3 linked regions of the Homo sapiens genome follow. The protein of the gene in region 2 purifies or fractionates together with the protein of the main gene of each other region. This does not show direct contact. Each region holds a gene or a part of one and is shown on either strand. Other genes may lie near its edges. The genes, in order: PNMA8A, RARG and ZPLD1.

What was found.
Region 1: the proteins of RARG (region 2) and PNMA8A purify together in Homo sapiens (affinity purification with mass spectrometry; 2 studies listed by BioGRID and IntAct, with this or other methods). This does not show direct contact.
Region 3: the proteins of RARG (region 2) and ZPLD1 purify together in Homo sapiens (affinity purification with mass spectrometry; 2 studies listed by BioGRID and IntAct, with this or other methods). This does not show direct contact.

Annotation. Positions count from the first base shown.
Region 1 is NC_000019.10:46,466,040-46,476,982, forward strand, and holds PNMA8A (paraneoplastic antigen-like protein 8A), read right to left. Parts: upstream 5,525-10,943; 5' UTR 5,298-5,524; intron 5,076-5,297; 5' UTR 4,997-5,075; coding exon 3,694-4,996; coding exon of another isoform or gene 3,623-3,693; intron 2,539-3,622; coding exon 2,522-2,538; coding exon of another isoform or gene 2,500-2,521; 3' UTR 464-2,499; downstream 1-463.
Region 2 is NC_000012.12:53,227,108-53,237,562, forward strand, and holds the start of RARG (retinoic acid receptor gamma), read right to left. Parts: upstream 5,103-10,455; 5' UTR 4,867-5,102; intron 4,129-4,866; 5' UTR 4,062-4,128; intron 581-4,061; 5' UTR 439-580; coding exon 255-438; intron 1-254.
Region 3 is NC_000003.12:102,429,016-102,439,839, reverse strand, and holds the start of ZPLD1 (zona pellucida-like domain-containing protein 1 isoform 2 precursor), read right to left. Parts: upstream 4,826-10,824; 5' UTR 4,726-4,825; coding exon of another isoform or gene 4,686-4,725; intron 2,981-4,685; 5' UTR 2,867-2,980; intron 1,361-2,866; coding exon of another isoform or gene 1,353-1,360; coding exon 1,247-1,352; intron 1-1,246. UniProt on the Homo sapiens protein: Glycoprotein which is a component of the gelatinous extracellular matrix in the cupulae of the vestibular organ.

The sequences.
Region 1 (10,943 bases), on a different chromosome or scaffold from region 2:
GGCCGAGGTGGGCAGATCACTTGAGCCCAGGAGGTAGAGGCTGCAGTGGGCTGAGACTGTGCCACTGCACTCCCACCTGGGTGACAGAGCGAAACTCCATCTCAAAAAAAAAAAAAAAAAAAGACCTTGGCTTCTGTGTGAGGGAATAGGAAGGGAGGGAAAGGTTTTCATTTTCCAGCTGTTTATAAAAAAATAAACTGGTACTTTGAGGTAATTTGCGTCACCAGATACCTATTCTAGAAACCCCAAGATCTGTGGGACATCCTTCCACATCAGTGGAAAGCCATTCGCAAAGAGGACAAACGGCTTCTTCTCTCATGGATCATTAACAATTCTCAAAGCTTGAACCCGTATCTGATAACCAGTCACATCTGGCTGGGGGCACTGTTTGAGGAAAGGGGAACCCTTTCCTCAAATTTAATAGTCCATGCAATCCTCACCTACAAGAGACTTAACAGGACACTTAATTTGCTAAACTTTATTTTATACATACACGTTTACATTTACTAGTCATGGTGTCAACTTGTTAACACAACGAAGCCCTAATGGACCCGTTTTGAAATTAGAAGCTGGACAGTTACAGGCTTTGGTCTCTTCAAGAATCCAATTCACCCCTGGGTTTCGCTTGGCACACACCCCAGGAGAACGTCGATGCACACAGCTGTGTAGCTGCAAACGGAAACCACTCTCTTTTCTCTCGTATTTTTCAGTCAGACTCACTCAGGATTTTGAAATGAATCATCACGAGAAATTTGTTTTAAAGTTGAATCACTGAGAACATCTAACAACTGTTCACATTCTTTATCACAAAAACTGAAGTCGGAAAAGACGCCCTGAAAACTTGCAAGGGCTAATACTCTATGATAGAATATTACTACTGTTCACCATGTTAATACATTTACTTACTACCATACACCTGAACAGTCACGGCAGAACAAGAGCATGTGAATGACGAAAGGAAACTTGCTTTCAGGGTGTCAGATTATAGAACATGCACAGGAATTTCTTCCACTTCTAACCTCGCTCATCAGTCACATTTACAAGAAACTCAATTTTAAGCAAAGAGATGCCTGAAATAACTAAGACGTGTACAAAAACAAGTTAACCTATGAACACAAGGTAATATTCTGATAGTCTTCGATGTGACTTCCAACATATCTGAGTAGTCACTTTTCAGTTTTTTAAACACGTGAGAAAAATAGATTTGGATTACATCTTTGTGGACGGCTACGATACAGTTTGGAAACCATTATCTCAGGGACCCTGCTCTCTCCTCTACACATGCGCACGCAAACACACACACACACACACACAATGACACATGGTGGTCTGGTCTAATATAGTGTGTCTGAATTCAGAGGGCAGACATTAACAGCCAAGTTTTGTTTTTTTGAGAGAGAGTCTCACTCTGCTGCCCAGGCTGGAGTGCCGTGGCACAATCTCGGCTCATTGCAACCTCTGCCTCCTGGATTCAAGCAATTCATCTGCCTCAGCCTCCTGAGTAGCTGGGATTACAGGCGCGCGCCACCACGCCCAGCTAATTTTTGTAGAGATGGGGTTTCACCATGTTGGTCAAGCTGGTCTTAAACGCCTGACCTCGTGATCGACCTGCCTCAGCCTCCCAAAGTGCTGGGATTACAGGCGTGAGCCACCGTGCCCGGCCAACAGCCAAGTTTTAAAAGATTTTTTTCCCCTCTTACTATAATGTGAGTAGTGACCTTCTGCTGCAAAGATGGTGACAGTTTGGTGCAAAGATGGTGACAGTTGGGTAGATGGATGGAATTAGAGCTGGGGACCTAGGAATGCCTGCGTCCTTCCCTATAATCACCCCCCTTCCCCACAGGATTCCTGAGAGGGCTCATCCCAAATGGGAATCAAAGTGCCATTTTTACTAACAGACTCTAAAACTCAAAGACTTTGAGGTCTAGGCAGACATTCTTTTTCCCTAAAACTAACTCTTGGGACCTCCTGGCTAGATAACTGGAGGATGGAAGCTGGAGACTGAAGGAGCAATAAAACCAGGTTTGCAGCGAAGGTCCTGGCTTAACTTACCCCGCTGGTTACACGAGAGGAAGGCGGGAGGAAGAATATGGCAGGGCCACCCAGCTCTTCCAAATGCCAGGGCCTGCAGAGGTCGCTGACCATTCCGAGGAGGGAGCAAGGCGTGGGGGAGAAAAGCTGAACATGGATGAGTGTAACAGTGACCCTGCTCATGCATAAAGGGGAATGAATGTTCTAGAATTTTCCCAATCCTCTTACCAACTCTCCTGCCTCCGAAGAGAAGGTGAGTAGAGAAGGCGGTGAAACGGCAGGCCTGGTAGAGAAAAGGGCATAGAGATCCACCTCCCTTCCCCAACTCCCTCCCACCCAAGACCTCACCTATCGTTTACCTCAGGGCCAGATCTCTATCAACAGGGGCCCTAAGAGAGTCCAAAGTCTTATTCAGTGACAAGAGAGAACTTGGTTGACTTGGTACTTCTTCCTTGTTCTTTCAACTCCTCAGTATGGGTGGTCCCCCAGATCAAACCTTTCTGGATTCTGCAAATAAATGAGAGAACAGATCAAGAAGGGAAGCAGAGAGGTGTCATTAGGAAATGCATTACTTCCAAGAAATTTCTGGGTCCCTGAACATTTCTATTCCCCAGCCAGGTCTCTAGAAAACTTCACCCTTAAAGCCACATACCCTGCAAACACCATAACTCCAAAGTATTAATATTTTTTTTGGGGGGAGGGGGGAACAGGGTTTCACTCTATCGCCCAGGCTGGAGTGCAGCAGTGTGATCTTGGCTCCCTGCAACCTCCACCTCCCAGGTTCAGGGAGGGTAAGAGCCCAGACCGCCCTTCCAGGAGCCCCTGAAGGCCGATGCTGGAGACATCTGGTGGGCAGATGTCTGGAGGCCAATCCCAGGCCTTGGCCTCCCCAGTAGCTGGGATTACAGGCACAAACCACCATGCCCAGCTAATTTTTGTATTTTTAGTAGAGATGGGGTTTCACCATGTTGGCCAGGCTGGTCTCGAACTCCTGACCTCAGGTGATCTGTCTGCCTTGGCCTCCCAAATCATTAAATTCTTTTTTTTTTTTTTGGAGACAAGAGTCTCACTCTCGTCACCCAGGCTGGAGGGCAGTGGCACAATCTAGGCTCACTGCAACCTCCACCTCCCGGGTTCAAGAGATTCTCCTGCCTCAGCCTCCCGAGTAGCTGGGATTACAGGTATGTGGCACCACACCCGGCTAATTTTTTGTATTTTTAGTAGAGACGGGGTTTCACCATGTTGGCCAGGCTGGTCTTGAACTCCTGACCTCAGGCGATCTGCCCACCTTGGCTTCCCAAAGTGCTGGGATTACAGGCATGAGCCACCAAGCCTGGGCCCAAACCATTAAATTCTCATCAAGGAAGATGGGTCAGATGGAGTGGCAAATGACCACAGTGACACTCATTGTGGGTTTCCTCTGCCACCTCCTGCCCACCAGATGTCTCCAGCATCGGCCTTCAGGGGCTCCTGGAAGGGCGGTCTGGGCTCTTACCCTCCTCAACTGGTGTGTCATCCACCTCCTGCCATGCACCAGGGTCCTCCTCATCACCCGCTTGACCCACCACCTCCTCGGGCTCCTCTGCCCCACCTGCCACTCCTGCTCCTCCTGCCTCATCCACTTGCTGGCACGAGCCCAGTCACTTCTGCTATCATTCTCACCATTGGTGGCACGCCGAGGAGAGCCTTCTGGCTTGGCCTTCGGACCCCTAGAGGTTGAGGCTGTTGCCTCGGCAGGCTGCTGGCCCCGAGGGGCCTTCTGATCTGATGCCTCCCTTCTTGAGCCTGGCCCTTTCTTTGGCATCACCGGCTTCTTCCTGCCATCTTCTGAGTCAACCAAGACGTAGGAGACAGGGCCCAAGCTCACCTTCTTCTTCTTCCTCATGGGAGCGGGGTTCTTGGCAGACACCCAGGCCACGGCCTTCTTCTTTGGTGGGCTTTCATGGCCACCATCTTGGTCTGACTCAGAGGCGCCTCCTGGGCTCTCGGCTTCTGCCCGGGCATCCTGAGGTGGCTCTCTGGGACCCTTCCAGGCACATTTCGCCATGGGCTTCTTCAAAGCCAACTCCTCCTTATTCACACAGGGCTTTCTGCTGCCCTTGATCGGCTCTGAGATCGCCATGCTTTCAGCATCACCCACCTCAGGATCCTCCAAGTTAGCTGTGCTGTTGGAATTGATGCCTTTGGGTTTTTTCCAGGGCACTGCTTCCTGCCTGGAGTTCTTCTTCTGCTTCTTTCTCCTGGAGCGAGACTTAGCTCCAGCCCTGCGAACCAAAGGTTTGGTAGGCTCATGCTGGTCTTCCGTGGCATTCCAGTTGTTGGGGGTCTCTGCCTTTAAGGCAGAACCCACCTCTGCTGCAAGCCCCGGTTCTTTCTTCACCTTCCTCCCTGCTGCTAAAGCCCAGGCTGCCATCTCCTCGAATTCAGCGGCCTCCTGGGCCCTGGCTTCCTCCCGGCTGCGGATCTCGGCATCCATGCAGAAGATGATCTGCACCACTGCTCCCAGAAGCACCCCCAGAGCTTCTGCCCAGTTCTCTGGGGGCTGATGCTGGTTCTGGGACAGGGTGGGGTGGTTGAGCTGGAGCAGGCGGACCACATCCTCCCAGGTGCGCCCCTCGGCATCCAGGAATTCATTCAGATTTTTTAAAAACTCGGCATCCTGGGTAGGGTCTCTACAGACCACTCTCCAGACACCACCCCTTCCTGGGAATTCACGGGGGATGGTGCTCAGATTCACACCTTCACCAACCTCAATGAGGGCAGCTTTAACATTCTCTTCCCTCACAAAAATCTTGTTGAGCACGCGGTACGGGCCCAGTGGGGAGAGGACCCCATTCAAGGTCTCCTCAATTTCTGCCTGCCCACAGTCCTCTGGGATGCCTGTGACCAACAAGGACCTGTGGATGTCCACTTCCATTCCCCTGCACCAATCCTCCAGAAGGTTCATCGCCATGGTCTTGGACATTTAGCGGCTCTGAACCTACTATGTGTAGTAAATAGTCTATCAGGTGGACGTGGGCTGCAGCGGTCTCCAAACAGTAATCCTGCAAGGTGACAAGGGAGCGAGGTCACGTTCCCAGGAAGATGACCAAGCTCACAGATCCTAGCTGCCCCCTCCGCGGCTGGCCTGCAGGAGGCCTGGCGCTTTCCCAACACCCTCCTCCCCAACCCAGGCCCCGGTGCTCACACGTGTCCCTGAATCTGCAGCAAAAGGCCCTAGGACCCTCCCCCGGGCCTGACGCTCCGCCTGCCCAGCCGGGACTTACTTGGCAGATCAGCCTCCGACCGCCCAGCCAGGCCAAGGAGACGCAGTGGAATGCAGCCGTTTCCCAGTCGCTGGCTCCGGCTACCCCGGCGCCGCTGCTAGAGGCAGAAAGGGCCAAGAAGGCGCCGTCCGCCCCCGCTCCGGCCCAGGCGGGTCACGGGGCGTCCAGACTCGATGCCGTTAGCGGCGAGAAGCCGAGGTTGGCGTCGCAGCGCGCGCCTGCGCACTGGCTCCCGCACCGCCGCTCGGGGGTCTTGGGCTGCGCAGGTGCCGACGTCTCCATGGCAACCGGGCGTGGGTTGCTAGGGCTGAGCCCGGCCGGCGCGCCGGCGCTGCAATTGGACCTAGGGAGCCGGGTGCAAGAGTGGCCTGTTCAGGTCGCAGAGCAAGCGGGTCTGGATACACTCCGGTGGCGCCTCCACGGAGGCCCTCTTTCAACCCAAGTGGGCCTCGCGAACGGGGGTTAGGTCGATGAGAAGCGCCAACACCTATGGCTGCACCCACTGACTGTATTATCCTCTGCCCCACCTGTTGGATTCACCCAACGCAACTCTTGGGAGACACTAGAAATCAAGAAAGGAGGAAAACGAGGCTTTAATCTTCTTGGGTTCCTCCAACAGCAGGTGCAGTTCCTGTTGGGCTTGTAGCCTTCTCTCTTACAAGCTGCTGGGTTCTTCCAGGAATTTCCAGAAACTTCTAGAAATTTCTTAGTCTCCTCCCCGACCCCTTCTAGCATGAGGATAATGCCTCGCCTTTTCTTGTTTCCTCAACGTGATTCAGGGCAGGTTCTTGGCATCCTCCAGGCAGGGGACAATGTTACAGCTCAGTGACTGCCCCTACAGAGAAGTGTTAGTCCAAACTGCAACCATTTTGTAAGCCCTGACTATTTTGCAGATCTTGGTCAAAGTGAAATATTCCACGGGGGTTCGGGCCAATGAGAAACATCCTGCCTAATCACCTGACCACAAGGCGGACAAAGGCCCAGCTAAAGAAACATTATCATACCCTATCGTGCAAAGGCCCAACTGAAGAAACATCCCTATCATATTCTGCTGGGAGAAAGTGCAGAGAACACCACATTCCACCAGAACAAGGGCCAGAACCGCCTCATCATGGAACCATCTTATCAACATCCTGCTGGGCAGCAAACCATACTGCTCAGACCCCTCCCACCCATAACTATAAGTACCCCCAGCCTATAAGCAGCAGTGGGCTCTGGCATTAGGCTGGTTACCCACTTCCACAGGTGTCTGCAGTATACCTGAGTTGCTGTTGAGCCGCCTTCTGTCTGTGTGTCTTTAACCCTCACCTTCCCTCCAAAACCTAACAAGGAGGGCTACCCTCTAGGCAGTGTGCTGAGAATAGCACCTCGGGGCAAGGCTGCAGTCACATTTATACCCACTTTTAATGACGTGCTAATTAAGGGGTGGGTTTTCAGAATTAGCAAATTGGCAGTAACTTATGGGTGTTGCCATGGCAATGGTAAACTGTCATGGTGCTGGCAGGCATGTCTTATGGAGAGAGGCTTTCGGTGCCTTTTCCAGGTTTTGGCCAGTCTTCAATGTGATCCTCAGTGGAGTCCCCTGGGCCTCCTACCTCAACCTTGCTGCCCATGAGCAAGAACTTTGTTAATAGTTTATTAATGCCCAGTGCTGTGGCTCACGCATGTAATCCCAACACTTTGGGAGGCTGAGGAGGGCGGATCACTTGAGCTGGGGAGTTCGAGACCATCCTGGGCAACATGGCAAAACCCCGTCCCTACCAAAAACGCAAAAAATTAGCCAGGTGTGATAGGGGTCACCTGTGGTCTCAGCTATTCGGGAGGCTGAGGTGGGAGGATTGCTTGAACCCAGGAGACCCTGTCTCAAAAAAAATAAACTAATTAATTAAGCACTCCTATGAGACTCGGTTGGACTGGCCATCTGTTTTTTTTTTTTTTTTTTTGCCAGTCCCTCACTGATCCACCTACCAATGTCCCTTCCTGGCTGTGTGATCTTAGAGAAATAATTTGACCCCGCTGAGCTTATTTCTTTTCTCTGTAATAGGAATTCTAATAAAAAATCTTCCTGATTTGGAAGTTTTGAAGATTCGGGGGGATCTCATCTGAAAGATGCATGGAAGTACAATTTGGGCCTTGGTATTCAACCAAAATCTGTTCTTTGGGTTCATTTTTGAAACTGACATTTGCAAGGCCAAATAGCCAAATGTTCATTTCACTGTCATCTCTGGCATTCCTAAATTTGGGCATCATCAATACTTGTGTGATTGCCCAAGTTTCCATCATATTTTGTGCTAAAAAGTTGTGTCATTCAAATCGTTAACCTCTGATTATTCACATAATTCACACCGAATATTCCAATAAACACTCTAGCTATGATTAAAGTCTTTAAATCTCATGTGCTTTATATGTTGAAATTCTACATATCAGTGGAAGAATGAGTGTATATTTTTAGGCAGTGGTTTAAAAACATAGCCATAAATTCTCCGACACTTCTATTGAGAAGTGACGATCTGTGTCCCCTCCTCGTGAATCTGAGCAGACTTGTGACTACTTTAACCAATGGAGTTTAGTGGAAAGGAAGCTATGTGGCTTCTCAGACTATGTTACAGAAGGGCACGCAGCTTCTTCCTCATTCACTGGAACACTTTTTTTTTTTCTTTTTTGAGACAGAGTCTCGCTCTGTCGCCCAGGCTGGAGTGCAGTGGCGCAATCTCGGCTCACTGCAAGCCCCACCTCCCGGGTTCACAGCATTCCAGGTTGGGAAGAACAATGAACAATTTTTCTGAGAGATGGCTAATCACAATCCCCCATGGGCACAATGACCTCTTTCTGCATGTAGCCCCCTCCAGCATACCCCTATGAAACTTCCAGTCCCTGCCTTTTTGCAGACAGCCCCCTTCTCTGCTGTGCTGCCCATTGCAACCGTGCAATGTATTTTCATATCTTCTCTAATAAATCTGCCTTTCTTTACCTACAACTGTCTTGGTAAATACCTTTACTGCCCACAACACCCGCCGCACCTAGTCGTACCCGTGACAGTTGGGGGTGACTCAAATGACTGAGAGCTAGAATCATCTGGGAGTTTCTTCACTCACATGTCTGGTGCCTGGGCTGAAATCCTTTGAAAGCTGGGCTCAGCTGGGAAATGTTGATGGAAGCACTGATGTGGCTTGGGCTTCCTCACAGCATGAAAACCAGAGGGTAGATCGTTGAACTTCTTATTTGGAAGCTCAAGGATGCAAGAACAAGAGTGTTCCTGTGAGGCTGGGCGCGGTGGCTCACGTCTGTAATCCCACCCTTTGGGAGGTTGAGGCGGGTGGATCTGGACGTCAGGAGATCGAGACCATCCTGGCTAACATGGTGAAACCCCGTCTCTACTAAAAATCCAAAAAAATTAGCCGGGCCTGGTGGCAAGCTCCTGTAATCGCAGCTACTCGGGAGGCTGAGGCAGGAGAATGGCCTGGCCAACATGGTGAGCCGAGGCTGCACCATGGCATTCCAGCCTGGGGGACAAGAGCGAGACTTCGTCTCAAAAAAAGAAAGAGAGGCCGGCGCGGGCTCACGCCTGTAATCCCAGCACTTTGGGAGGCCAAGGCGGGCGGATCGTGGGTCAGGAGATCGAGACCACCCTGGCTAACATGGTGAAACCCTGTCTCTACTAAAAATACAACAACAACAACAAAAATTAGCCGGGCGTGGTGGCGGGCGCCTGTAGTCCCAGCTACTCAGGAGGCTGAGGCAGGAGAATGGCGTGAACTCGGGAGGCAGAGCTTGCAGTGAGCCGAGATCACGCCACTGCACTCTAGCCTGGGCGACAGAGCAAGACTCCGTCTCAAAAAAAAAAAAAAAAAAAAAAGTTACTCTAGAGAAGTATTTGGGACCCCCATGGGAATGAGATGCGTCTACCACCGTAACAGGAGGGACCTCTGCATCCAGGACATCTGGGTCCAGGAACGCTAGTAGGAGTGAAGGTAGAAAAATGAAGACGGGCTGGGCACGATGGCTCACGCCTGTAATCCCAGCACTGTGGGAGGCCAAGGCAGGCAGCTCACCTGAGATCAGGGGTTCAAGACCAGCCTGACCAACATGGAGAAACCCTGTGTCTACTACTAATACAAAAATTAGCCGGGCATAGTGGTGCATGCCTGTAATCCCAGGTACTTGGGAGGCTAAGGCAGGAGAATCGCTTGAACCCAGGAGGCGGAGGTTGCGGTGAGCTGAGATTGTGCCATTGCACTCCAGCCTGGGCAACAAGAGTGAAACTCCGTCTCACAAACAAAAAAAAAAAGTAAATTATTTTTTGAAAAATAAATATAGGTTAAAATAGTGAATTTTATGTTATGTGTATTTTACTACAAAAGTGAACAAATAATGCGTTACAGAATGGAGAGATGGGGGGCAAGGGAGGGAGAGAGATGCCTTCAGCTTTGCCTCAAAAGCCAGGTTTCAGCTTTCTGCAGAGCCAATATTCCTAACAGTCCTGGCTGCCCCTTCAGGAATGCCACCCAACCCCAGTGCATGAGCACAGAATCAAAGTTCTGGAACTTTCTCTTCAAAGAGAAAACAAAACATCTCAGTGTGTTTGAAAATTCTGCTAAGGATTTGTCAGACCAAAAAAAAATAATAATAAAAAAATAAAAGAAGAAGAAGAAAATCGTCAATCTAGACAGGATAAAAAGTAAATTTATACCAGCAGTGGATTGTAAAACATCATAACTAAAATGAAATGGAATGGATGTTTGCTGAATCTCAGAGGCTTTTGCTATGTTTGCCAAGTAGTTTTACAAATGCGGGAGCTTGTTTGTGATCCAGGCTGCAGACAAAGTTGCTGCAGTGGAAACTGAGTCACACAGTGACTCAGTTAGAATTAGACACTGTCTGTTTTTTCTTCTCTCTTTTTCAGTTATTTATTTTGGCATGCAAGGGAATGACAGACACTGAGTTTTGATAAATACTGGATTTTTAAATGCAATAATCCTCCAAGTGACTATCTCTGGGGAGAAGAAGAGGGCAAGTCATATGGGAGGTAGGACACAGCCTATTTAAACAATAATTTTGTTTAAAGATGTGTAAATAAATTTAGCATAGTATTAAGATTTAATAAAGAATGGCAAGGGATACATAAGGGTTAATTATATAAATCTCTTTTTTTTTTTTTTTCTGAGACAGAGTCTTACTCTGTCCCCCAGGCTGGAGTGCAGTGGCGCACTCAGCCTCCACCTGCAGGGTTCAAACGATTCTCCTACCTTAGCCTCCTGAGTAGCCGTGATTACAGGCACGTGCCACCATGCTGAGCTAATTTTTGTATTTTTAGTAGAGAAGGGGTTTCCCCATGTTGCCCAGGCTGGTCTCAAACTGCTGACCTCAAGTGATCCGCCTGCCTCGGCCTCCCAAAGTGCTGGGATTACAGACATGAGCTGCTGAGTCCAGCCAATAATGCTAAAAAAAAAAAAAAAAAAAAAAAAAAGGTGTAAATAAATTTAGCATAGTATTAAGATTTGATGAAGAATGGCACGGGATGCATGAGGATTAGTTATATAAATATCAATTCTTTTTTTTTCGAGACTGAGTCTCACTTTGTCACCCAGGCTGGAGTGCAGTGGCGCGACCTCGGCTCACTGCAGCCTCTGCCTCCTGGGTTCAAGC
Region 2 (10,455 bases):
CCAAGTTTTAGGCCTGCTACCTCCCTATCCTATTTGACAGGAGAACTCTCATTTGCAAACACTTCCATTGAGTCCACATCCAAACTCCTTCCTCACCACCACTACCACCCTCCATTATTCACTACTACTCCATTAGGCCAAACCCCTGTCCCCTGCCTGCCTTCCTAACTGGGGTGCCAACTCTTTTACCATCCACCCTCCTGATGCCTTCTTGTTAACATTTGCCTTCATTCCCCAAGATCCCTGAGACTCACACAGAGAGGCCATCTCCTTGGGGAGGTCAGGCTGGCCCAGGCCCCGGAAGCTAGGGCTCAGCATCTCGAAAGGCGGAGACCCCCTGAGTGCCCCTGGGAAGGCGAAGGGGAAACCTGCCCCTGGGTAGCCAGATCCAGGCCCCAGGGCACCAGCCGCAAAGAGTCGCTCCTTATTGGTGGCCATGGCAGCTGCGGTGTGAGAGTCCCCTGGGGTCTGCAGTGGGCGGGCGAGGTCTTCAGCCACAGCCCCTGCCCATGCCCACTGCCCCAGCCTGGGAGGCTCCGTACCCGCCCTGCCTGGCCTGCCCACTGGGCCTCCAAAAGTCCTAGGGAGAAAGAGAGAGAAAGGAGAGATGAGAGAATGACCACTCTGAGGTTCCAAGCCCTGTGACCCTCTCTCAGTTGCAGTCTTCTCCCTCTGTGCTGCTACAGTTTATCCTGCCCTGGCTCAGGGCCCTTGCAGTGTGGTAGAGAGGGCACGGCAGGGGGTTATGCAGGCTCTGAGAAACTCTCCAGAGGAGCTCCAGGAAAGGTTAAACTGAGGTCCCAAGGTGAATGATGGTCTAAGGACTTCTGGTGGAGAGAACTCCTAGATTGGGAAGTGATCATGAATCACCACAACTGGGCTAAGCATTTGACCTAAACCTCACATCAGTCCTGTGAACTGGGAGTTATGATTCTCATTTCACATATGAGGAAACTGAGGTGAAGTGACTGGCTTAAGGTCACATGGCTGCAAGTGGGGGAGCCCAGATTCAAACTCTTTACCATCCTGGAGAAGGCAAACATAACTCTGTTATAACCTGGGAGCCCTACAGCTCTCTGGAGAGGAGTACAAGGCAAAGGTTAGGGGGACAGACTCTAGAGCCAGACTACCTGGACTGTACCCCACCACTTGCTAGCTGTGGGACTTCAGGCATGTCACTTAATCTCTCTGTGCCTCAGTTTCTTCATGCGTCACTTGGGACTAATAATAGGGCCTACCTCATATGGTTATTGTGAGGACTAAATAAATTAACCAATGTCAAGTGTCTGGCATAATGTAGGGCACATAGGAAATGTGATGTAAATGTCTCATATTAGTTCTCTTTGTACCTTATTTTCCTCCATACTCTGCTTCAGTAAGCACTTCCCTCTCTGTTTTCCTCAACACTCCCTCTTCCAGTTTCCTCTCCCAATTCTTCCTGTCTCCAATTTTTCCTCACCCTGTAAGCCCTCTTGTACCCACTGCTTCAAATCTAAGGATGTTGATGGAGCCCCCACTTGTGCCAAGTGTATGATGCCAAGGAGCTGCTTCTTGGTCAGCTGACTTTACTTCTCTGCCTCCTTTTTTCTCTCTCTCTCTCTCTTTTTTTGTTTTGTTTTGTTGAGACAGCTAATGTTTATATTTTTAGTAGAGATGGGGTTTCTCCAGGTTGGTCAGGCTGGTCTCGAACTCCCAACCTCAGATGATCCGCCCACCTTGGCCTCTCAAAGTGCTGGGATTACAGGCGTGAGCGACACGCCCGGGCATTCTGCCTCCTTTTCTTTCTTATCCCTGGGCTCCCTGTTTCTAGGAAGTTCTCCCTGCAACCTCTCCTCCCCCAAAAGTAGGCTTCCCTCTAAGAGTTTAAACCTGAGCCCAGGGGAAGGGGAGGAGAAGGAGGTAGAGAGAGGAGATGGGAATCCTAGTGCTAAGTAGGTGGTTCCTATCTTCATCCCCTGACAAAGGAAAAGTTTGGCTTTCCTAGGAGCCCCAGAACTTCTCACCTCTCTAGGCAGTTAGTGGGCTAGGGAGGAAAAGTCACCCCAGCCTGGGTATCTCCACCAGTCAGAGCCATAACAGACTGCTATGAAGGGCAGAGAAGGGCCAAGAGACTAAAATGCAGAGAGACCATGGGGTGGGCAGGCCCAGAGGTAGGGGATGGGTATATCTGCCTTTCTTTCCATCAGTATTTGCTTCTAGGATGTATAGCTCTCAGTCTTTATACCTCTGGTTTTTATTTTTGTTTTTGCTTGTTTTTCTTTCTCTCCTCTACCTTGGCCTTCAAGCCCTTGAGGGTAAACTGTCATGGAGGTTACAAGAACCCAGACCCCAACGCCATCACATTTCACTCAGCCCTTATGAATGAAGCATCCCCTGCCCCTCACCATGGCACCACCCATACACCCAGCACCCTCAAACTCTTTAGCCCAGTGTCTTCGCAGGCCCTAAAAGTCTGAGCTCCAAGCCTCCAGGGTCCCTCTCCTTTTCCTTCTCCTATTCCCCTCCGAAGTTCTCATCCCTAGTTAAGCCCTGATGGAGCCAGGAGTTTGGGGGCCCCTGAGGCCCCTGGGCCACAGCTCAACTGGCCAGGCCACATTCCAGGTGGATTAACCCCTCCAATGACAAGGGTGAGAAGCTACTAGAGGACTCCCCCATCCCCATGTTCCCCAGACTTGGCTTAGACTGGGAACAGGGCTCTCTGCCTTAGCCCTCCTTGTCTTTGCTTCTCACCTACCAATGGGAAACACAGGCAGGTAGGGCAGTGGGGGTCCCCACAGAGGGATGCTCAGCTCCTGATCCTCACCAAGGAATGATGCTGCATGTGAGCCAATGAGAGTTGTCCTTGGCCTTCCTCTTATTTTGCCTCAGAGAAGGGACTTGGGAGTTGAGTGAAGAGAGGAAGGGGGTAGAGATTCCTCCCATTTCTGAGCCTTGGTTCTGTCGTGGCTGGGAAGAGAAGGGGAGGGTCTTAAACCCAGGGTAGGAGAATGGACTAAGGAATTGAAGGCAGTGCAGAGTAAAAGGAAGTCCTAAACTGAGGCCCCAGGTGCCTTGGTTCTTTGGGGGACTCATGGAAAGTAGAGAACATTCTTCCTCTACTAAGATGCCATCTCAAATGGTGGGGCAGCGGGGATGACAGACTAGGGGAGAGGGGCTCTTACAAAGCTGCTTCTCTTAGAGCTGAGGTGGAGTTGAGGGGAGGGCATGGATGAAGGGGGCTGCCGGATGGAGGGGGGTGTGTTTCCCTGTCGCCCTGCCCGCTCCAGAGCCTGGAACAAAGCTGCTCTTGTCGGCCACTCTCCACCCGCTGCCCCCCTCCCCTCTGTATAAACACGACCACCTTTTTCCATGACCCCATCTCCAGCCTGGGCAGAGAACCCAGGCATCCTCTGCTCTAGCCTGGGCCCCCAGCCTGCTCCCCAGGAGGCAGCAGTGGGCCAGGCTTCCTTGGCATTGTGCCATCCCTGGGGGAGTCCAGACCCTTGAGTCTCCACCTCTCATCCCCAGGTGCCCTCCCTCCACCCTACTAGCCCCAGGGAGGGGCAGTGCCCAGGAGGCAGGCAGGCAATGCCAGTGGAATGTGTGTGGGCATCAGAGGGCATGGACAGGGTGGGGCAGAGGGGGGAACTGGAGGTGCCAGTTAGGTGGCTTTCTGAGCCAGGGGTGGGGGTGTGCCGGGGTGTGGGGGGGCGTGCCCCATGCTGCCTACTAGGCTGTAGGCCACAGTGCGTGTGTGTGTGTGTGTGTGTGTGTGTGTGTGTGTGTGTGTGTGTGTATGTCTGTCTATATGGGATACCCAAGCTCCAGGCTCCCTGCACACACTACCCCCACTCCCCTGTCTTCTCTCTACTTGCCTCAAGGATATGAGATGCTGGCTATGGTCCTTGACCCCAACTCAGCATCTGACCCTAAGGGCAGAAGCCTCAGACTTGAGGATTGGGATTCCAGCTGCCCAGGACCAGAGCCCTAAAGCGGGACAGTCATCTCAGTTTCTTGCCCTGAAGACCTCCTACTCAGGCTCCCCTGCCCCCACCACCACTAACAACCAAGCATCTTCTTACCCGCTGGCCGCCTGCAGAGACTGGCTTCTACATACTGGGTCAGGTTGAGGGAACTGGGCCGTAGCTGCTAAAGACAGAGAGGCAGCGTCAGTGGAACTCTGGGACCAGCACTCCTGGGTCCCTGTCCCGGTCTTCCTGCTCTTTCTTTGTTCCATTTGGGCTTCCCTCAAGAATACTCCAGAGGTGCCCCCCACCTTGGCTGGAGGGAGCCAAGGCTCGCACCTGGGCTGGGAACGTGTGGGAGGGAATCCAGCGCTTCAAGGAAAGTTCACAGATCCCTATCCTATGCACCAGTCCTTCGGAACTCCTGGACGCGGAGGGCCAGGCTCACTTGCCTCTGGACGTTTTCCTTGCCTTCTGATGTCCAAGCTGTCCCATTCCACTGGGGAGGGAGGAACTTGGACCAGCATGGAACATCAAATCTACCCCTCAGAGCCCGGGGGTAAGGGGGTGGTAGTCTTTCCCCGCGAGAGGAAACCCTGTCTTCTCTCACATTCCCAGCACAAAAATATAAGGAGGAATGCCCCCTGGCTGAAGACTTCCCCAAATGCTGTCCTCTGCTATGCACCAAAATGAAGGGCAGATGACCCAGCCCATCCTCAGCCTGTTAAAATCTTCCCCATTCCCTTCCCACAGCAGGACTGGCCTGGGTCGGGGCAAGAAGCCCCCCTCAAGCCCGGCGGCCAGCCTGGCCAGCCTCGGGAGGGCATTCGCCCGTGCAGCTCCTCCGCGCCCCCTCCCCCAGCCGCCTCGCCGGAGGACCCAGGCGACGGGGCGGGCGAGCCTGCTTCCCCGCCTGACTCACCTGGAGTGGGAGGGGGAAGGGAGGCGGCGGAGCCCCGAGGTCCCGGCGTCGGGCAGTCTCTTGGATGGAGCGTCGCAATGTCCGGGGCTCGCCGTACTGGGGGGCTCCTGGGGGGGCACGGCTCTAGGCTGGGACTGTCCCGGGGCCTCTCGGAGCCCGCCCGCCCACGTGACCGCCCCAAAATATCCGACACATTTTCTCCCAAACCGCACACTGACTCTGCAGGCGGGGACACGGAAAATATTTTCTTTCTTTTTCTCCCTCCCCACCCCCCCCCCAACCTCCCTCCCTGCCCAACTCCCTCCTCCCCCTCCCGCCCTCGCTCCTCCCTCCCCTGCCTGCCCCTGCCCGGCTCCCTCCTCTGTGCCCTGGGGCTGGGGGGCGGAGGGATGGGTGGGCGGGAGGGGGACTGGGCGGGGCGGCCCGGGACGCCTGGGTCTCTGCCCTTCCCATTTGCTAGGCTTCCGTGACTCCATCCTCTGGGAGGCCGGGCACGGCTGGCAGAGGAGGTCAGTGTCCTGGCCCCGTGATGCCAACCTTTTCTCTCTGGCACTTTTCTCCTTTCTGCCTTTTGGGGGGACTAGTTGAGTTGTCTGTGGCCAGGCTGTGACTCTTGCGAGGCCAGTCTCTGGCGCCTCCCCAGGGTAGGCAATGGGGCGGTACCCACTCCCTCCCAGTGCTGGATTGGCCGGGCAGGAGTATGCCAGATCTAGAATAGATGCTCCTGCCCTTACTCTTTGCTCAGCCTTCACCTGCAGATCCAAGTAGCCTCTCCCTTCCCCTAGCCCACCTCAGTCCTTTGGTCCCAGGAGCAAACTGGTTGACTAGTGGCTGTTGCTGGGGGTGCTGAGGCCAGGGCTCACAGACATCTTCCCTGTCATCTTGCCTGGAGTAAGCTCCAGGAGTTAGGGCGCCTGGGTCCCTGGCTGCCAGTTGTCCCCCACCTTTAGGCCTGGATTTGGAAGGGGAGAGGCTGGAGAGGAGGGCAGGAGGAACTGTGGCTGGGAGTGGGAGGAGCCTTGGGCTGGGTGTGAGAGAGAAAGCCCAGGCAGAGGGTGTGTGTCTGCCCTAGCCAGCACCGGCCTGCCTGCCTGCCTGCCTGGTAGATGTGCCATGAATGCTGTTGACTCCGGGTGTGTGTGTGTGTGCGTGTGTGTGTGTGTGTGTCTGTGCAAGCGCGTGCGCATGCCAGTGCCGAGAGTGAGTGTCTGTGTCTGATGGGGGCATTATCTGCTTCAACATAGACAGACTCTCAACCCTAGAGTGAGAGAACCCAGTGGTTTCACTCTGCATTCTACTGAGGACAGAGGGAGAGAAAAGAATGGGTCTGCAGTCCAAGCTCTGTGCACGGATCCCAAACACTCCCATGGGGACTGGAGTTGGGAGGGAGAAAGAGGAGAAGGGGAGAGTCTGAGCTAGGCTGATAGGCTGGACAGACATACCCAAAGTACCTTCCCCAGCAATGCTCGCAGGGTGACCAGGACCTGGGACACAGACTCCTGGGTCACGTCACATTTTCCATACTGGAATTACTTGGCTTTGTCCTTGCTCCCCCCTGGGGGCCAGGTGTCCTCCCTCCTGGGAAAGGCTGCTTTTGGTAGCCAAAGTCAGGTGAAGGAGATGGGGGAAAGAAGAGGCATGCTGTGGTTACCTCAGGGAATGGGAGATGGCAATGGGGGTGCAGACAAGCCCTCTCTTTCACTCCAGGGATAGGAAGAGCTAGGAATAGATACTCCAGGGTCCCGTCCCCAGGTGGCCTAGCTGCTGTTGACTTTGCTTGGTTACCCTGGGAGCAGCTCTCAGCAGTGTGGGAGGGGCGGGTGTCAGGGAGTTGGACCCAGGCGTCCAGGCTGGGGTGGGATGGCGCCCCGCCTGTGTGGCAGGGCTCCTGCCAAGAGGCTGCAAAGTTAACCCCTCCTGCCCTGCCCTAGTGGTGGCTGGTGGGAGGAGGGCGGGCCCAGTTGTGGTTTGGGAATGTGGCCCTAATTTCCCCCTCCCCCTTCCAGCACATCTGTACTTGGTTTACAGTGAATGAGCCTCCTGTCCTCATGAACCAGGCAAGGGCACCACTCCCTCCTTGGCCAGGCATTCTGACACAGAACCAGGCACCACCCGTGACACTCTCCTCTCCCTGCTGAGTATCATCTCTCTGAACTCTTCCCTTCTCCTTCTGTAGAGGGGCTTAGGGTTGGTCCCAAAGATCTACAGCTGGAGCTCTGAGACAGTGCATCTAGGTAGCAAATGGGGCCAGGGAAGCCTAAATCGGGGGACAAAACACTTGGGGTAGCCTCTGAAAACAGAGGGAGTCAGAATTCCAACTGTCTCTGCCCTCCCTTTGTCTTGGTTTGTCTGTCTGTCTGCCCGGGTCTTTGTCTCTGGTGGGCGTTTGTCTATCCATCCGTCTTGGTAACTGTAGCTCCTCCCTTCTGGCGGCCTCCTCGTCCCCAGCCGACGACAGCAGCCAAGCAGCGATGCCCAGGAAGACCCGCCCTATGCCGGCCCCTCCCCTTGGGATTGCCACTGCTTCCACCCCCGCCCCCTCTACCGCCCCTCCCCAGGACCCAGTGACTGGGGTCTGTTCACTGCAGCAGTTTGGAAGTCAAACCAAACAGCAGCAGCAGATTGGGGGACAGGGAAGAGGGGCATTGTGAGGGCTTCAGATTCTTCTCCCCACCCTCCACTCCCCAGCTTGCAACAGAGCCAGCTTTCTGTCCAGAGATTCCAGGAGGAGGCTTGGGAAGAGGGCTTCCCACTCTGGAAACTGGTGGAGGGGGCTCCCCTCATTCCTCTTTCCCTTGGGTCATCCCTATTTCTAGGCTTTGCTCTGTTTGTGGCTGCTCTACTTTGTCACCCTGGCAACTTGGAGAAATGATATCTTGGGGGCCCTAGTACCAGGCTTTGTTTGCTCCCCTCATCCCAGAGCAAAGACCAAAAGGAGAGATTATGAGGAGAGGAAAAGGATGCAGATATCTGTCCCACCTGTCCTGAAAGTCATGGGGAAATGACTTATTCAGTGCCCTGATGCTGGGGGGGCGGACAGTGGTGAGGATGAAAATTGCCCCACCCTAATTTTCACCCTCACCCCCTCCCAACCCTCCGGCATCAGGACACTGAATAGGTCATTTCCCCATGCCCAAATCTGGTGGTGTGGGGGATGTCCTATGCCATGCTCAGAGGTGTCTGGCAGATGACTATAGGGGGTGGTGGGGGAGCTGTGTTGCAGCCCCCAAAGACATCATTAAGGCATGGAAGTGCTGTCAGGGCTTGGGGACCAGGGCACCCAGGGAGAGCGTGATGAAAACATGTTTTGTACAACACGTGTCCTCTCTTTTCCCTTCCTCCTCTCCTCTCCCACCTCCTCCCCCTAGGCAAGCTCTGTGCCAGTGCTGGTGCCAGCCCTGCCTCTGGTGCTTGCTCCACTCCATCCCTTGTACTAGGCCTATTCTGCTGCTTGCCAGCTCGTTGACTCTCCTGGTGAGGGAGTTTGTGTGTAGAAGGTCCTTACCAGCCCCAGTGCTGCCCAGATCCCCACATAGAATAAGGACTTAATTTTGAAGCTCAGGATTTTAGGATTAGCCTAAACACCTCTGGGAATTTCTTCCCTGAACAGGCACCATGCATTAATTCAACAAATCTTTATTAGGCATCCACTATGTGATAAGCACTGTGCTAGGTTCTGGGAATACCCAGGTATGGTCCCTGGCAAGTTCACAGTCGGATGGAGTCAGTTGTTAACCAAATAATCCACAAAACTGCAACTAGAATAATCAGTGTGGAGAGGCATGAGGGACCATGAGAATGGAGCAGAGGAGTATTCTCCGCCAAGGAGATCAGGAAAGTCTTCGGAGAAAAAATGAGGGAGATTAGAGAGAAGGAAGGGCAGTGAAATATATGTGCTGCTCAAGAGTATGTGCAAAGGCCCTGGAATTGATGTCCTGGCCCTCAGCCAGTCTGCTCCCCCTGCCCCCAAAAAAGAGGGGCCTTCCATTCCTGTGACGTGCTTGGATTTCAATATGCCAAAAGGGAGGGATGGTAAGTACCTCCTTGTGGTCATAGCAGGACGCTGAGATACCTGAATGCATTCATTTCCTCCAGAAAGGGAAACAGAGACAGAGAGGGAAGACGACTCACAGGCTGAGACTTGAGATTATACTATGGAAAACAAGGCCCCATGCTGGCAAATCCTCCAGGGTGAGGGATTCCTGCATTTGCCCAGCTGGAGCCTCACCAGACAGAAGGCCTTCTCCTCTGAGCCTGCTCTACCATGCCCCCACTCCCCCGATCCAGCCCTGACCTGTCCCACTCCCTGGAGCTAGCACGTCTGCCTCCACAGTTGCCTGGAGTGTGTGTGAGGCGAGTGCTACAGGTGTCTGCCAGCCAGTGTGTGGGTGGATGTAGCTGTCTGTTTTGCACAGAATCTCCATCCAGGGGATACGGGGTTCTCTTTCCCCTGTCCACTGGAGAGCTTCCAATTCCTCCTACCCAGACACAAAAGTTCCAAGTCTCTTCCTTTTGAAAAGGAATTGGGGGCCCCTTGAAAGAGGGAGCAGACCTCTTTGTGACTGTGCCTCCTCTAGAGCCAGCAAAGAGGTCATGGAACCAATGGGGTTAAGTCCCAGCCCTGCTGTGACCCACTTTCCTCCCTGTGCCCACATCCCCTGGGGCCAGAGTGTTGGGTGGGGCCAGCCTGGCACCCCCACACCCACACCTGGGACTTCCCCTGGATGGAAACTCCCAGAACCCAGGCATCCTGCTTCCCCTGCCAACTCCCACCAACTGCCTGGGTTCTATTCAGCTTCAGTTAGATCTCCCTGTCTGCCAGCCTTTGACCAAACTACATCTGTGCTCCAGCCCACCCTTTGGTGTCTGGCTGCCCCTTCTGGTGGACTCCTTTGAAGAAAAGATGTGGAGCTGGGGGAGGGGGCTGTGGAGAAGCCATCTTTTATTGAGCACCTACTATGTGCCATGTATTGTGCTAGACATGTACATTATCTCATCCCCACTTAACAGAGCAGGGAGTAAGAACTGGAGAGGTTAAGTGACTTGCTCAATATTGCACAGCTAGGAAGTGGCACAGCTAAGAGGAGAACCCAGATCTTGGTGGTCCTGAGCTCTCTTCACTATAGCAGCGTTCTTCCACTTCTCTTGCAGCTGCCCACCTCTCTATGGGATGAGAGACTTGAGAAATTCAATTTAATCCAATTCAGCAAACACTGAGTATCTGCTATGTGCCAGGTACTGACAGGTACCAGAAATAAAGAGATCACTGTCCTCGAGGTCTGGTGAGAAAGACGAGCATTTGGAAGTGCTCTAACATCAGCATAATGACCTGAACAAGGTGGCACGGAGCTGAGAAAGAAGCGGTACTTTTATTTCCTCCTTCTGTACAGAGTATATAAATATATTATGAACAGTATACAGAATAAATGGAATAAAGTCAATACCTACTTCATTGCCATCCAGGTCAAAAACTGGAGTATTTCCTATACTTCAGAAGTTCCCCATGCATCCCTTTCACAATTCCCTCAGTCTCCTAAAAACGAACTACAATCCTGACGTTTGTAATAATCGTAAACACAGAAATTACTT
Region 3 (10,824 bases), on a different chromosome or scaffold from region 2:
TTTAATGATATTAAGAAATTACTGTTGGGCTTATTAGACGTATACGTAAAGGATAATGATTTTTAAGTTCTTTTCCATCACATATAAACACCAAAGCATGAATAATGCATTTATTTTAAATATGCCAGAGATGGGAGTGGTAAGGACAAAGATCAAACAAAATTTATAAATGTTGATAATTGATAACGCTAGATAATCAATATGAGTGCTCTTTCTACTAACCTCTACTTTTGTATGTTTGAAGTTTTCCATAATAATAAATGTAAAAAAAGCTCATTTTTGATATTCAAAGCCATTAACAACTCTGCCTTAGCAAATTTTTCTTGAATTCCTTTGGTCATTCCCACCGTGACCTTCATATTTTACTAACAAACCAAGCACTTACATCCTAGGTCTAAGTTCATGAAGACATTCAGACAATTTCTGATGTGGGCTCTGTTGTAGAAATCGCACTTTATCTATGTAACTACCTACTGATTGCTCTATGCAGGTTTGCTGTTTCATAGCATGCTCCAAACACAGGAGGACTGGCAGGTTTTGAGAATGTAAACCACGGCCAAAGAGATTCCATTTGCATGGCAGACTTGGAAAATTGTTTCCAATTACCTAATATTTATTTTGTAAATGTTGAACTGTGGTTCCATTACTTTAGCTAATATAAAATGATGAATACCTAGGTAAAACCTTGAGTAACTTATCATTGAATGCAGGTTTTAGAAACCTGTGGGACATGCCCATCAATGTTGCCAAATCTCGTATTTGTCACAACGTTGATGGGTTTCTGTGAAATTCATTCTGAAGCTCACCTGTGTCCTTTGTGGTAATCATCATTTCATTGAAATAGCATTTTTTTGTATTGTACAATATTTTACAATCATTTTCTTAAGATTATTCCTAAATAAATATTAGCATTTAAGAGCAGTTCTTTAAAGTCTAAATTAATTTATGAGAAAAAAAGACACAAATTTTGAATGAAATTAGTCTCTCCCAATTTTTTACACAGTAGGCAATATTTTTCATATCTGTGAGCAGCCATTATAATAATATTAACTATGATGAACACTTTGTATGTTAATATGGATATAAATTACAGCTCCAGAAAAATGTCTTGTCATTTGCCATTTGTTAATATCCACTTAATGTAAAGAGATAGCCCCCCGTTCTCCATATATATTTAAATGACTTGCTCTTCAAATATAATCACTCTTCCAGAAACAACTAGAGAATAGATTAGGCTTACACTTACCAGGAAATCTACTGTGGAGGTTGGCATCACAGTTGTAGCCGTTGAACTGAGCAGACCCCGGAAGCACTCTAATTGTTAGAAGCAGCAGCAACCATATTTGTTCCATTGCAAAACCTGGAAAAGAGATATCTATCATGTGGACACTCCCACTTAACTCCTTCACTCCTACTTACTGGAAAAACTGAGGCTGATCTCAGCTCACTGTTGGATAAGCAGTTTACATCCATGCAGCCAAAGCTCACGAAATAACTGAGGATTATCGGTAGTAAAGGCAGATATTTGGGTTACAACATTTCAATATTGTTTTCATCATTGCCTCCTGTTGGCTAAGGGTGACAAAGCTAGATTTTCATAGTAGAAGAGCTAAGGTATAAATCATAAAGTTTACAAAAGGAAACTTCTTTATTATGCATAGGAAGAACGCAAACCAAGTATCTAGCAGATTGGAATAGCATAACTAGGCAGACTAATTTGGAGATGAGTCTACTTTTTACAATACCAACAAGTATATAGTCAGAGGAATTTAAATGTTGGATACTTGATTCTAAGAGGAATCTCAATAATCTTAATGACCAAATAACAACTTTCCCTTAACAGAAAACAGAAAAAAGTCTCCCCCAACAGAAGAATTCCAGACTACTGCAACTTTTCAAAATCAATGGTTTGTGTGTCATTTTCTTAGGAAACATAGTGATAAAGCAAAAGGAAGAACAGGAAAATACTCTGTGTGTGAACAACATTGCAGTTCCTCCCACAACTGCTCCTTGGTGGGTAGTAAGGACTGATACAGACATAAGAAAACGTTGAATTCTTAGGATAAAGTAATGGAAGATTTTTTTAAATGTATCAGTGTGGGTTGAACAGTTAAATAGAAATGGACTTTTACTTAAACACCAGTCAGTTTTGCGTTTAATAATTCTTTTTCCTGGATGCCCATTCATTGGCCTGATAGAGTTAAAACATCTTTCAGGAATACCTAACTTATTCTCAGAGCATAGTTTGTACACTGAAAAGAATCTTTTGGGTTGGTGGTCTTGGTCTACGCATAAAAAGCAAAAAGAAAATAAAATTGCAAGTGGTTTACTCAAATAATTTAGTGGATTTTAAAAGCTTGGGTTTTGGAAGGAAAATGGTGTTTTAGCTGTCCTTAAAAATCTACCCTTAGATAATTAATCAAGTCTTTAGGAAAAGGAAGGAAACACATCTTGCTTTTGAATCATCATTTCAGAATAACAAGTTTACAGTGAATAAAGTCACTTTGGTGAGGATGTGGGAAAGAAAGTCATGCTCACTCTCAAAAATCGACTGAAAAAAAATATTAATTCAGCAGGAACTTCCTTCCTTTGGCACTATCACACAGTACTCGGGCACAGATCTAAAGACTTTGGAGAGAACAGCCATATGCCTAGTTAGTTCTGATTGCCTGTGACAGTCCATAAGCAAAAGGCTCACACCAGTGGCTGACCCAGACCCTAGGAGCTCTTGGCCATACCTGCGCCATCATTATCTAGCTCCTCAAGATACTTCAACTAGAATAAGACAGTCTTGCTCTTTTGGAGTCTTTGGAAGACACTAGAAAAGAAAGAAGCCTGAATAAGCAATACACTCCACTGCACCCACATTTATTCCATGCTCCATGCTCCACCACTTCCTTCTCATGATGGGTCCCAAGAACTCCTGGAAGACATTGGAAACTCTAGACCCACACTGTTGTCCCCAACACAGAGGTGTATCCTAAGAAATTACAGAATCAGGAATTTAAGTTGGTGAGTTATTTTGTGGTTCTGAAATGCTTTCTAGCTAACATATATTTTTCACAGGAGAAAATAACATTTACTGAATGTACACTTTGCACAAAGAAGGCACTTTGTGCCAGATAACTTTCCTATAGCTGCTCATTTATATTTTTTATAATGATGGGTGAGGTTACAATTATTACTGCATGTACAGAGAAAAGAATGAGTCTCAGAAGGTTTAAATGACGTGAAAATGAAGTGGAGGAACTAGAATTCAACCCTAAGTCTTTCTGATAGTAAAGTTTGTTGAACAAGCTACCTAAATTTCATCTGTTATTAAATTTAAGATTTTCTTTATTGCCATTTATCATCAGCTGTTTTCTTTAGCTTTTTACTTTGTGTATCTTTTAATAGATCTGTTCATTTATAATGAGTAAACAATTTTGATGTAATTAATACAATTTTCTTTATAGATATATTTTATAATGGGGCATTATGAGAAATAAAATTATTTTTAAAAAAGAGACAGAGAGAATTGTTTATTTCTCATTGTGAAAACAGCAAAAAAATTATTATTGACTAAACTAGACACATTTGTGTTGGCCAAAAATAAATGAAAAACTCATGTTAATTGAAACAGCTCACTGAGAACAAGTAGTAAACTCTTAGCCTTAAAGCTTTAAATCACATCTCAGGTTGTCCCAAAAAGGCATGACACTGTCCTACTCTCCTTAACAAAACCTACAGCACTTTCATAGTGATTAATACCCTAACCATTTTTTAATGAATACGAGGTGGAAGTAGAAGGCAGCTTTCTTTAACAGAAAATATATTGATTTTTATGTTAGCAGGTATAGATTCAGATAAATCCCTTCTCAGCCATTCTGTAGATTTGTCATTTAAAAATCAAGATAATGGCCAGGCGTGGTGGCTCACGCCCGTAATCCCAGCACTCTGGGAGGCCGAGGCGGGTGGATCATGAGGTCAGGAGATCGAGATCATCCTGGCTAATACGGTGAAACACCGTCTCTAGTAAAAATACAAAAAATTAGCCGGGCGTGGTGGCGGGAGCCTGTAGTCCCAGCTACTCGGGAGGCTGAGGCAGGAGAATGGGGTGAACCCAGGAGGCGGAGCTTACAGTGAGCTGAGATCTCGCCACTGCACTCCAGCCTGGGCTACAGAGCAAGACTCCGTCTCAGAAAAAAAAAAAAAAAAAAAAATCAAGATGATGATCATAGACTTTACAAAGTATAAGTGCATAAAGTATAGTATAGTTTGGACATACAGAAGGCATTGAAAACTTAGTTTCAAGGCCACCACATATTGATGTGCAGGTCGTACCCTCCACAAGGGCATCCAATGCAGGAAAACAATGTCTAGGTCTGAACTTCTTTGGACTAGCCATGTACTCTAGAGCTAAGCTACAATACAAAGTGTCTCATGGGCTAGTGACATCCCTAATTGGTTGAATCTCTATTTGAGTTACAATGATATTTGTGCTGATCTGTGTTTTAATATTAAGGCACATTAGGCAAGGAATTTTAAAAGGACACCCATATCTCTTATAAAGGCAGTATCCCTATTTTGAATCTCTATAGTCTTGGCAGGGCTTACGACATTTTCAAGCCTTCTTTATAGTTCAACTGTAAGTTAAAACAAACTGATGAACTATTATCTTGCAAATTTCCCATCCTCAACCTTACCTTCATCATTTCCCCTGCACATGGAAAACCTGAGCATCATCTTGCCATAGCAAGCTTGGAGATGCTATTTTAGCACAGTCCCTAAATACTTTTCTGAAATTGAATTGTATGGGATTGGGGGATTATGTTAACACCCTTTACATTCCTCAAAAACATATCATCCTGGCTGCTCAGGCTCCCTAGATCTTAGGCAGGTGCAATTCCAGACATGTGTATTTTAGCTCTGATCTGGTTATAAAGGTTTAGTGGAGTTTCTTTTCAGAATGTAGAACCTGATTCTGTGGTTTACTCTGGAATAATCTAAGGTGCTTGCTGTCCCACTGTGGCTCCAGCAAACTCTTGACAGAGAATCTGAGCAGAAGCATTTTTCACCTTCTCCACCACATCTAAGTGCAGCAACCAATGTCTCTGCTTGGATTTTAATAGTGGTTTACAAGAATGCCTTGTCTAATACATCCAATAATACAAAATATTAATACCACAGTCTGAGATGATAATGGCCTTGAAGATATGTGTGCAAAAGAGTTTTGTATGTGTTTCTTATTTAGAATCTTCATAAGTTTAAATTGATGGGAATGGGGAGGAGAAGGAGGATTATAAGTAAAATGTTGAATTTTAAGAAATTCAGAAGTGTTTGTGTAAAAAAAGAGACATCTGTATCTCATAAACTGTTACTAATAGAAAAGGAAGTCATATGCTAAGTGATTTGCTGTCAAATATGTCAATATTTCTCATACTAAATTTTCTTTTTAAAATGACTTCTTCCAACATATAAATCTCTAATTTCTTTGCTTAGAATTAAATTTGGAGTCAGAAAAATATAATGCACTTTTAATTCCTCCTCAATTTTATATTAATTGGTATAGTTCTGTCACAAACATTGGTCTTTAGATTTTAATATAAAATAATCTTTGTTTAATCTTTTTATTGAGATCTGTTACTGTATGTACCAGGCACTGTGCTATGTTTAATATTCAACTAATTACATAGATTTAATTTTTACTCATGTTAAAAATGTGAAAACCAAAGCTTAAATATTTTAATTGACTCGCACAGGGTCACAGACATAGTAAATGGCAATGCAGAATTCAAAAATGAGCTTGACATTTGGAATTATTACATTATTCTCTTTGACTTGATTGGAGGTTTTCAAATAAAATTAATGTCCTACTAATTTTCAGAAAGTAAATTATATTAATAATGTATGCTTAAGATATGCTCTGAATTAAATAATTCAGATGATTGAGACAAAATATTTTTTAATATCTACATAATTTTCATGACTCTATTTCATTAGGCAGTGAGTGCATAAAGAACATTGTTCTTGGCCAGGCGCGGTGGCTCACGCCTATAATCTCAGCACTTTGGGAGGCCGAGGCGGGTGTATCACGAGGTCAGGAGATCGAGACCATCCTGGCTAACACGGTGAAACCACGTCTCTTCTAAAAAAATACAAAAAAATTAGCCGGGCGTGGTGGCGGGTGCCTTAGTCCCAGTTACTCGGGAGGCTGAGTCAGAAGAATGCCTTGAACCCGGGAGGCGGAGCTTGCAGTGAGCCGAGATCACGCCACTGCACTCCAGCCTGGGTGACAGAGCGAGACTCCGTCTCAAGACAAAAAGAAAAAGAATATTGTTCTTTTCAAAAATTGATTTAATGTAATACTTATAAGTTTTAAGAGCTGACTGTGTACCAGAGTGTTTTAAATACTTTTATATGTGTTTTCTAACTATGAGATAGGCAATTTATTCTCCCTATACTGGGGAATGAGAAAACTAAGGCACAGTAATCTGAAGTAATTTGCCCAATGCTAAGCAGACAGCCACTGTTAGAATCAGGATTCACGCCCGGAGCAATGACTACAGAAACAACCCTCAACTATTATGTGGCACCGCCTTCCAGAAAATGATGCATATAATGCTAAATCAAATGGAAATTTGGCAATTTCTTGGTAAATTTGATCAGTATTGCTTTATTCTTGTGTATACTGATCAAATAATTATTGAATGTTTATATGTGTCTGGTACTCTCCAGGGAGTGGGGGGATGCTGAGGTACAGCAATCAGAAAAATTTTTATTGCATATCTGCATAGAACTTACATTCTAACTTCTAAGTCAGAAGGAACCAAAATCTACAAGTAAAATATAGAGTATATTTGTGATAAGTGCTATGGAGATGAATAAAGCAAGAAGAATAGTAGGAAGTTCTAAGGTGGAAGGAAGAAATATTGAAGTTTTAAATAAAGTGGTCAGAGATATATAACTAACCCATATAAATGAAGCTTGCTGGGGGGAACATTGATTATGAACAACCCAGATCTATGTGTCTATAATGTATACCTCACTTGCTTTTTTTTTCTTGCCATTTAGCTACTTCTCAAATAAAATAGACTTTCCTAGTGCACAAATTACTCTTTGGGAATAACTTGGACACTTTAAAAATCTGCATTAACCTTTTCAGATGAATAAAGGTGGCTCTTAGTGCCTGAGAAAAGTAATTTATTAAATAGCACCCCTGTGACCTGAAAAAAAAAGTGAACATGTTCGAAAGTGCCTTTATCTGCTCTCAAGAAATAACTTTTGCAGAGACAAATGACCTCAACAATTTATCAAACTTTTAAATTTCCTTAATTTCATTGCCTTGATATAGGCTGATCTGTTGTTATAGTTGGAAAGAAAAATAGAAAATTCAAACTAAATATCATCTCTTCAAATGTTAAACATCAATCTGAGATTTATGCACTTTTCCCCACTAAACTAAAGCTAGTTTTTTATCATACAGATTCACAAAAATGTGAAATGAGTTCTTTGGCATCGGTGAGGCCCCAGTCCTCTAATTCTTGGCTCTCCACTGCATTTACTGAGCAGCTACTCTCCACAGGCTGCCATTCCTGTAGGGGCATGGCCTCATACCCAGTGCTTCTGCATCACTCACTCAAACCTGCTCTGCAGAAAAGATCACAACAGTTCATTAAGGTTTAAATTACTGGAAACATTAAAAGATCTCAGGAAAAAAGGAGAAAAAAATGTGTGTATTTTAACAGAGATCAAAGTTTAAGTTAAAGGATGAAACTCTACTCCAGCATTGGACAACTAATAGATCCTAGGTAAACGGGCACTAAAGCCACACAGGTAGGCAACTGTATTGCCCAGCTAAGAATCATGATGTTACACAGTCTTCTCTCCAGGAAAAGTACATATTAACTCGCCCTTCAAAATCATTATTGTTTTTTGTTTGTTTGTTTGTGAGACAGAGTTTCATTCTTGTCACCCAGGCTGGAGTGCAATGGCACAATCTGGGCTCACTGCAGCCTCTGCCTCTTGAGTTCAAGTGATTCTCCTGCCTCAGCCTCCTGAGTAGCTGGGATTACAGGCAACCGCCACCACGTCCAGCTAATTTTTGTATTTTGAATAGAGACGGGGTTTCACCATGTTGGCCAGGCTGGTTGCGAACTCCTGACCTCAGGTGATCCACACACCCCGGCCTCCCAAAATTCTGGGATTACAGGCATGAGCCATCATGCCCGGCCCTAAATCATTAGTTTTAAAGTGCTAAGGATCACAACTCCTTAATAAAGAAACATGTTCTCTGATGGGGTGTCTAGACTGAAGCTCTATATTCTTTATCTTTATCTTGCACTTGCACATTAGAGTCAACATATATATTAAAAGAAAAATGAAAATATATGACCTTCATTGGAAATATTCATTATTATGTACATATACATTCATTAATGTAGAATGTCCTTGTCTTGCTAAATAAAGAAAAAAACACACCATGTACTTTCAGAATAATGCCTCAAACAAAGAAGGAAATATGTTGAGCCAACAAGAAGACATTCAGAAATTTTATGGCTCTTAAGATGCTGATGTATACCATAAGGAAATATGAATGCTAAAGGCTGCTCCTAAGAGAAAAACCTACTCCAATTTTCTCTGACACAAAGTGAGTGTTCATTTATTTCCCTTTGCCTGCCTTCCTCATTTGTCTTTCTGTTGAGGGTTTTCTTAAGTAATCTACAGCATTTAAATGATCTACAGTGTTTAGTTTAGAACATTTATTGTACAATCTGAGTTTTGGGGGAGTAAGTGAAATGATAGGTGGAACTAAGTCACTTTAAAAGCTTTCCCTTAATAATTCACCAGGTTCCTTTTCAAGATATTTGCACATTTTATTCTTCTGAAGCAGCTTTGAAGATATGCTAGCATATTGACTTCCTTCCTCCTTTCATGAAGTGTAATCATAACAAATTAATAATAAAATAATAATTTTACTAGTTATCTTAATTGCTCATTTCCCTCCAATGAAAACTTGACTATTGGTATTATTACATCAGAATAAAAATATTTCTTTCTCAATAGAGATGATAGGCAAAATATTTATGAGAAGGCACAGCACAGGAATCAATCACAAGGGACAAAATGCCAGTATCTTTTGGCTGAATATAAACCCACTCCCCGATATTCAAATGTATGTTCATGGGTACCAACAATGAATAATGGCAATATAATTTCACATCTTTGTCAACCCTTTCCTAAGAATAAAACAGCTCTTTTTCCTATAGTACTCCTCTCTTTGAGATTTCTGTTAATTAATTATTTATTTCACATATTTTTGGTGAGCAGTTTCTAAGCATTGGACTCAAGGTCTTGGGAAGTCAGAAGTAAGCAAAACAAACATAAGCTTTACCCACACAGAGCTTATAGACTATAGACAGAGGGAGTTATTAAATTAATAATCAAGCACATTAAAAAATGTTTGCAAAATATGTTAGGAAAGTGCTATGAAAGAAAAGTAAAGCACAGTAGATCCTAATTTAGATGGCAGGTGTCAGGAAAAGACTTTCTGAGAAATGCAACAGTTGAAAAGTATTGAAGGACTGAGTCAAGTTAGTCAGATGAAGGCTGGAGCAAGGTGAACTAGGTAGCATTCATCGCATGACCACAGATCCTCAAATGTCAAAACAGTCAATACTTTGTGAAACTTTTTTGGAAGAAAGTCCATCATCCTGAGCTAGGAGGAGAGGGCCAGAAGTTGTCTCCCTGTAGGCAGCAGGGCCGGGCTACACCTTTTCTCCTAAGTGGAATGGAAAATCATTGAAGACTTTTGAATTGAGTGCTACTGTTATAATACTAGGGGTGCATTAAAGTAAACATATTTAAAATATTATTTTGAAAAGGAAATAACAGGACTTGTTGCATTCTAGGTGCAGAGTGAGTACGAAAAAGGAATCAAGAATGACTCACAAGTTACATTCTCAGAAACTAGGACTATAACAGAGTCTAATACAGCCTTGAGATGTGGAGATTCCAATTAGATATTGCATTTCTCATCTTTTTTATCTATGTATTTATCCAAACATATGTACATCTATCTATCTATCCATCCATCTATCTGTTGTGGTGGTGGTGGATACTGAGTCATTTGGAAGTTAGTTTTAGACATTTTGATCCATATTCCAGCACACATCTCAAGAATAAGGGCCTTCTCCACATAACCACAATGGCATTATCAATCGCAAGAAAGTTACAATTAATTCATAAGAGCATCCAATATCAAGTCATAGTCAAACTTTCTCAATTCATAAAAAATATATTATATAACTTTCCCCCCCAATCCAGTAAACCCTAAAAAGAGTCCAAGGAGATAATACAACTAAGTGAAAAGGATGATGTATTACATTTGGTTGTTATATTCCATTAGTCTCTTGTAATATAGAAATTCCCCCTCGTCAGATAACATTTTAAATCTGTAAGAATTCCATGGTCCTACCAGACCAGAAGAATGGGAGAAAATGCAAGATTCTGTCAAATCAGAAATAAAGTGGCATGACAAGTTATTCAAATATGTTAAGAATCAAGAAATGCAAAATTTTAATCAAATATTAAAAGCTGCATGGTTGCAGAGAGAATTGGGTAATGTGTCATTTGCATCTAAGGGATGTTAAACACTTAGATTACATGAGTTAGATGAGTTGTGTGGGCTATAACAACAATGACATGAACTTCCCTAATTTATTAAGCCCTTACATAGACTATAAATAGGATTATGTTGCATGATGGCTGCAAATAAGAATCTAGCCATAGTCCCAGCCAAAACCTTTGACTAATAAGTAATTTCAGTTAGTTTAGAAGACAAAT